Homo sapiens: one gene and its partner. The protein of the gene in region 2 interacts with the protein of the main gene of each other region in a pairwise test. Each region holds a gene or a part of one and is shown on either strand. Other genes may lie near its edges.

What was found. Proteins that work in one complex are often made in the same cells at the same time.
Region 1: the proteins of MTUS2 (region 2) and ENPP7 interact in binary tests that used the Homo sapiens proteins (3 or more experiments, as listed by UniProt).

Annotation. Positions count from the first base shown.
Region 1 is NC_000017.11:79,737,423-79,741,073, forward strand, and holds part of ENPP7 (ectonucleotide pyrophosphatase/phosphodiesterase family member 7 precursor), read left to right. Parts: intron 1-474; coding exon of another isoform or gene 475-493; coding exon 494-624; 3' UTR 625-640; intron 641-3,651. UniProt on the Homo sapiens protein: Choline-specific phosphodiesterase that hydrolyzes sphingomyelin releasing the ceramide and phosphocholine and therefore is involved in sphingomyelin digestion, ceramide formation, and fatty acid (FA) absorption in the gastrointestinal tract.
Region 2 is NC_000013.11:28,823,339-28,826,989, forward strand, and holds part of MTUS2 (microtubule-associated tumor suppressor candidate 2), read left to right. Parts: intron 1-3,651. UniProt on the Homo sapiens protein: Binds microtubules. Together with MAPRE1 may target the microtubule depolymerase KIF2C to the plus-end of microtubules. May regulate the dynamics of microtubules at their growing distal tip.

The DNA of each region.
Region 1 (3,651 bases), on a different chromosome or scaffold from region 2:
CCTCTCACGAGCACCTCATGCATCTCGGGCGGCACGAGAGGGCGAGGGGGAGGAGTGGGCAGTCTTGCTCAAGAAGGGGCTGGAGGGAGCGAGGGTGGCCCAGGCGGGCCTGCTGTGCAGAGCCCACCTCCTGGCTGCTGGATCCCCACTCCCCACTCCCCACCACAGCAACCTGAGGGCCTCCTTTCTGGAATCTTCCTGTATCAGCCTCCCACACACACACCTCCCCACTGGAACCTGCCCCATCTTGGGGACAAAGGCCACCTGGAAACTGACAAGGTGGCGACCCCGGCGGGGGCCTGGCTGGAGAGGGGTGGGCTCTACTGAGCAGGGCTATGAAGGGCCGTGGTGGACAAAGGCCATGGGACCAAGGGGGCGGTGAAAGAGGAAGGAGGGGCTCGTGGGGACCAACAGAGGACCCCGAGTTTACTGTGGAGAGGCTGGGGTGAGGAGCCATCCCTCTCTCCCTCACAGGTCCTCTGGCTTTCCTTAGAATCTGCTCTTCCGCCTGATGGAAGGCCTACTCTCCTGCCCAAGGGAAGATCTGCTCTCCCGCCCAGCAGCAGGCCCCTCCTCGTGATGGGACTGCTGGGGACCGTGATTCTTCTGTCTGAGGTCGCATAACGCCCCATGGCTCAAGGTCAGAGACCCAGAAGGCAGAGGCGGGAGGGTGGCCCCACGCTCCCTGACCCTCCACCCTGATGTCCCAGCTACAGTCCTAGGCAACCAGAACAGAGCTGCCAGGCCCCGCCAAGCAGGTGACTCCCACTGACCTGGCTGCCCCAGAGAGGCCATCACCCCTGAGATCCCGAGGCTGACCCTTCCAGCCTCTCTGCTCTGGGCTTGGAGGAGGTCTTTCCAGAGCAGACCACCCGGACCAGTGGCCAGAATTCCCACCCTCCCCCAAAAGCCAGAACTCCCTCAGCCTCTGGCCAGAGCTGCTGCCTCCCCTCCTTCCTGCCATCTCTGTGCTCCACTGGGATAGCTCGGAAACCGTCACCTGCGGTGCATTTGGGAGGAGAGCTCTGGGGCTGTGTTCCTGGAACTCTCCAGGAGCCTCCTAGGACACGCATGAGGTGTGTTTGGTAGGAGAGCACCAGGGCTATATTCCTGGAACTCTCTGGAAGCCCACCTCTGAGGACACGCGTGGGGTGCATTTAGGAGGAGAGCTCTGGGGCTGCGTTCCTGGAACTCTCTGGAAGCCCACCTCCAAGGACACGCGTGGGGTGCATTTGGGAGGAGAGCTCCGGGGCTGCGTTCCTGGAACTCTCTGGAAGCCCACCTCCAAGGACACGCATGGGGTGCGTTTGGGAGGAGAGCTCCGGGGCTGTGTTCCTGGAACTCCCCGGGAGCCTCCGAGGACAGTGCTCCCTTGTCTGTCTGTGCAGCCACAGCCTCCTAGGCCAAGCAGAAGAAAGTCATTCATTCATCCCGAAAATATGTAACGGGAGCCAGCTCCATGCCACGCTCTGGTCTGGGCTCAGGATATGCAGCGAACAAGACAGTCCAGGACCTGTCATTTAAAGGTGCAAGAAAGCAGAGAACACAAAAGCAAATGAATCCACGCACAGAGTGCTCAGATGCTTGTGATGGCAAAGAAGAGACGGCCACAGGCAGGGACGAGGCAGGCGCGACCTTGTCATTTGCCCGGCCTGGAATGGCCTCTCTGAGAAGGTGGATTTAGGGAGAAAACCAGAATGACAGACACACCAGAAGAAGCCAGACACACCAGGCAGGGGAAAGAGCCAGGGACAGGCCCGCGGTGGGACAGGTTCGGCGTGTTTGGGATGAGACAGAAGGCCAGTGTGCCTGCAGGTTGGCACAGAGCGAGGCTCTAACAGGAGCTGACCACAGCCCCAAGGCAGGAGGTTGTGGGATGCACAGCGGGGAGCCCCAAGCTGAGGTTACACAGGGTCTGAGGTTGATGATTAAATGAGTGGCTCCCACTGCTGGGCCGGGGACAGAAACGGGAGCAGGAAGTGGCCAGTTTGGAGGTGGCTGCAGGACCCAGCCGGACATTCCAGTGGCGGGGTGGAGAAGCTGCAATGTGCACAGATTCCAAATACCTTTAAGAGGCACGACATTCGAGGTTTGTGGACAGATTATGTGGGAGGGTGAAGAAAATGCAAAAATGAAAGATGGGTCCAATGCTTGGGTCCTGAGCCACTTGCTGACATGCTAAACTGTTGGGGACAGGAGTCGGGGGGGCCGAGACTTGTTTCGGCCGTGATCAGCCTCAATGCCGGCGACGCGGCCACGTGCAGCTGTTCCTGGGCACAGGTTGTGCAGATGAGTCCACAGCCAGGGATGCAGTTTAGTCTGGCAATTTAAATTTGAGACTTGTCAACACAAGCTATGGGACTCAATGAAAGCCCCCAGCCAGAAGGAGTGGACTGAGAAGAGATGGTGACCACACCACTCACTGAGAAGGCGGGGCTGGTGAGACAGGAAAAGCCAAGAGCTTGTCATGGGTCAAGAGGGGAATGAGGCCAGGTGCGGTGGCTTCCGCCTGGAACCCCAGTACTTCCAGAGGCCGACGCAGGAGGATCGCTTGAGCCCAGGAGTTCAAGACCAGCCTTGGCAATATAGTTAGACCCCGTCTCTGTAGGAAATTTTTTTTTAATTAGCTGGGCATGGTGGTGCGTGCCTGTAATCCCAGCTACTGGCAGGGAGACTGAGGTGGGAGGATCGCTGGAGCCCGGGAGGTGGAGGCTGCAGTGAGCCTTGTTCCTGCCACTGCACTCCACCATGGGCAAGAGTGAGACCTTGTCTCTACAAAATAAATCAATGAAAGAGAAAGGAGCGGGTTTAGGGTTTAGAGAAGTAGGAATGTGGAGATGTGTGTGGTGGGGAGGACCATTCATGCCAAATGTCACATCCGGAAGGGGACCAGAGGACCCTTCAGCCCGAACCCCTCAGGCAGACGAGGATGCTGGAACCCAGAGGCGTTAGCTGACTGGTCCAAGGGCACCAAAGAGTGGCTGGTGGTGTGTAAATGCCAGTTTTAAGGTCCTGGTCCCGAGTACTTTCAGCCACAACGCCTGCCTCTCTGTGCTCAGGGGCTTGGGTCCTGAAGCAAGTCTTCCAGCACTAGGCAGGGAAGTGATAAGGTTTCCATGGCGCTAGAGTCCACAACCATTTGTTCTCCACATTAACCAAGAGAGGGACTCAGAAAAAGTCATTATTCAGACTCACACACAAGGAAATTGAAGCACAGAAAATCAAAGATCATGTGACTCTGCATATTCTCACACGGCTTTTCCCCAGAGGAGCAGCCACGGTGGCGTCCCAGCAAACCTGCTCTCCAGATCCCCCTCAAAAAGCCCTGCTGTTGGCCCTTACCCATTTCTGCGGCGTGAATACTCCCACCATGGCCCATTTCAAGCTACCAACGTGAGGTCACCGAACACAAAGTAGGGAAGAAGCCCGCAGAATCATCTTTCACAAGCAGCATCTGCTGGGCTGAGCAGGTTGCTAAGAGCTGGGGGGTCCGAAGTTTTCATCACAGCCTGGTAAAGTCCATTTGGAACTAGGCTGTCTTCTGTGGCTAGCTTCTTTTCTTTTCTTTTCTTTTCTTTTTTACACAGATTCTCACTGTGTTGCCCAGGCTGGAGTGCAGTGGTGCAATCACAGCTCACTGCAGCCTCGACC
Region 2 (3,651 bases):
GGGAGGCTTATAATATCTACCACACACATGTTTGAAACGAGTTGTTGAAAAGAGTCAAGGAGTTTCCCCTTTTCTCTGAAATGATTTCTACTTCCTATGTGAATTTGGATGCCTTTAGATCTTATCATCTTGACCCTTCCCACCAACGGGTATACCTTGTCTATCAATTACCCATCCATCAGTCATCTATCTACCATCCACCCACCCATCCACAGAGACTCTCTTTTTGACCAAACTTTAGTCAGGCTCCCCTGAGCCCTCTTCTCAACTGGGCCTCAACCTTGGCCCGTAAGAACTGCAGCTTTCAACACAAACAATTTTGTCTGTGCTCCCACCCTCCAACGGATTTGAAAACACTGTAGCATGGTGTATTAGCCTGTTCTCACCTTGCTGATAAAGACATACCCAAGACTGGGTAATATATAAAGGAAAGAGGTTTAATTGACTCATATAGTTCAGCATGGCTGGGGAGGCCTCAGGAAACATAGAATCACGGTGGAAGGGGAAGCAAACACGTCCTTCTTCACATGGCAGCAGGAGAGAAAAATGAGCAAAAGGGGGAAAAACACCGTATAAAACCAGCAGATTTCATGAGAACTTACTGTCGCGAGAACAACATGAGGGTAGTTCCCCCATGATTAAATTACCTCCCACCTAGTCCCTCTCATGACACATGGGGATTATGGGAATTATAATTCATGATGACATTTGGGTGGGGACACAGCCAAACCATATAACATGGCATCTAGCAGCCTAAGGCCATGTGTCTGGGATCACCCAGCCTCACTTGCATTCCTACCTAGAAAAGCTCAAGGCTGCCCCAAAGAATTTATCTTTTGTTCTAGCCCACACAAATGATAATAGGCCCCTGACTTTCATTTTGTTAGATCGTTTATTAAAAACTTACAATTGTAATTCTTTCTCTGTGCCTTTGAGATATATGTGTATCTCCTACCACCTGGAGTGTCTTCCTCAGTGTCTGTGAGCCATTCCTTTGAAGTGTAATCATCAGGGAGGATAGGGCTCTGTCCTCTAGTCTCTGTAGATGGGTAGGAGCCTAACTTTGACAAGTGCCATTTAGCAGTCACAGATGGCCTAGTCTCATTGGCAAGCCCCCTTGCCTGATTGCTGTAATGTTCTGTGTCCTTGACCCTGCTTGAGCCCCCACACATTCTCATTTCTCCTCCCTACTTCCTTATTCTCCCTTTAAAACACCCAGTCACCTCTACCTGAATTGGAGTTGAGCTCAGTTCTATACTGAAGTCTCTTTCTCTCACTGCAGTTGTACTGGGTAAAATCTGTCTTTACTGCCTTTAACCAGTGTCTAGCTTTTTTTTTTTTTTTTAAACACCATCCAACAAAAAAGTTTGAGTGTCTCCATAGGCCAGGCACTTTTACATATTAGGTATAGAGCAGCAAATAAAACAGACAAAAACTGCATCCTTGAGGAACTTACAGTGTAATGGAATGAATCAGATGAGGTTAAGTACTTAATATATCAGGTATGGATACTGCTATGGAGAAAATAAATCAGAGATGGGGGAGCAGGAGTGGGTTATGGGGAATTGCTATTTCAAGTAGTGTGGTCAGGGAATGCCTCACTGAAAGGAGATGTTGAGCAGAGCCCTAAAGGAGATGGAAGAGTGAGCCACCTGACCAGAGTGCAGCTGGCATTTGTGGGGAGCACAGGGAGGCAGCTGCAGGCCGCAGTGGGGGAATCTCATGCTCATGGCCAGCTTTTCCTCATGACAGCAGCCCCATCCCCCACTCCAGCCACCTGAGGCTGCCCACGAACACTGGTGTTGTTCTTGGGGCCTTAGTGGTATGGTGGCTTGGAACTGAGGACCTCTCAGGGCATCGGAATCCAGCCTAGACCATACCTGAATAGGAGTAAGGAATGAGAGTGTATGTTTTCAATGATGGCTCCCACTGGTTTGTCATAGGAAAGAGGCTGGGGGCAAGCTCACTCCAGCCTGGATTCCCTGCAGTCACCCTGGGAACAAATGGAACTATGATGTATAAAAGATGTGGACAGTGGAAACCACACGGCTCTTTCTCGAGGAATGTCTTAATATCAGGAACCTAGAACAACTTTCTGATTTGAACTGAGCCTAGAGAGAATCCCCAGCTTAAAGGGAACTGGGGTTGGTTAGGGTTTGAGGAGGGGAAATTACTCAGTCATTGACCGAGGCTCCTGCATGCCCAGATGGCTGCTCAACATCTGCTAACCAGAACAACACACACACACACACCCCTGGCAACAGGCTGTCATGAATTTCTCCATGGAGAAGGTGAAGAAACCATTGGGGAGCAGCAGCCAGGGCCTGTCTGCTGGTTTTTAGTTACAGCCTTTCTATACTCATGGGGACAGGGGTATGGAACCAGGATGGGATAGCTGTTTCATTTTTTAAGCTGTTAGCTTGTAACCATTTTAAACTCTCAACAACCAAAACACAAATCTCTCATATAGAGGTTCCTTGGATTGTTTGCTGGTGGGTAGGGAGCATCACAGCAGCTTGAGTGAGCATATGCAGCTGGCATTGGGGAGGTGGCATTTATAGGAGTCTGGTGTTCCTGACTCTTCTCTGTGCCTGTCATGACTTCATGTGGTCTCTTACTTTGCAAGCTTCTCTCACGTGCCCTATTGTATTTGGAAAATGGGGAACTTAAGGTCATTCCTGGGTATTTGATACTCCTCTTTAGCTTTTGTAAGTGGGCCTTCTTCTAATTGGTTGTATATATTCTATATGTTGGTTGTATTACATATAACCAATAATTGATATATAGAAAGCTATTCTAAAATGTAATGTAACCAAGCACTTTTCAAGCTCTTATTAATTATAACCTTGTTTTGTGGTTATTTTCCTTGGATTTTCCAGATAGATGGTCATATCATCTGCTAAATAAGTAAATAAATCAATAAATTTAAAATACATGGTTAGATGAATGAATAGATAAAAAATGATTACTTTGGTCTCTTTATTTCTATTTTTTATTATCAGACTAGATAGAAGACGAGACTGTTTATCTGTTGAGAGATTTTAAAAACAAGATTATTGTATTTCAGCCAAATGTACTTCCCTTGTCCCAGAGAGGATAGGCTATATGATCTCTGAGGTCCTCTCCTTATTAGTCTTTTTACTCTGTTTACTGTAGACCCATTGTACCAGTATGTTCAGTTCCCATAGAAAAACAAAAGAGTGTTTACACACAGTCATTATAGATAAGCCAGCAGTGTGTGTGATTAGGGCCAAACCAGTATTGATGATGGCCTGATACTGACTTTAGAAAGTTTGACTCACCTTGCAGAAATGAAAAGCCAACATAATGCATTAGCGTCTATGAAGACTGTAATAAGGCAAATACATTTGTCCAGAAACAGGCTGATATTGATACACTGATTTTAAGTGCTTTTCCCCAAAAGTACAATAGAGAAAGCCAGGAATATATAGCCTTGGATTACAATAAATGATAATAAAACAGCAGAAGCAAATAACACTTAATAGGGAAGTTTATTTTCCACACTTCATCAGATTGCTACTGCAGAGTACTAGTCTAAAAATTTAATATGAACACTAGCTCTGTAAATACGGGAGAAGTAATCTCAAATCATCCTGAATTAATTATCTTTGTGCTAAGCTGTTTGACATT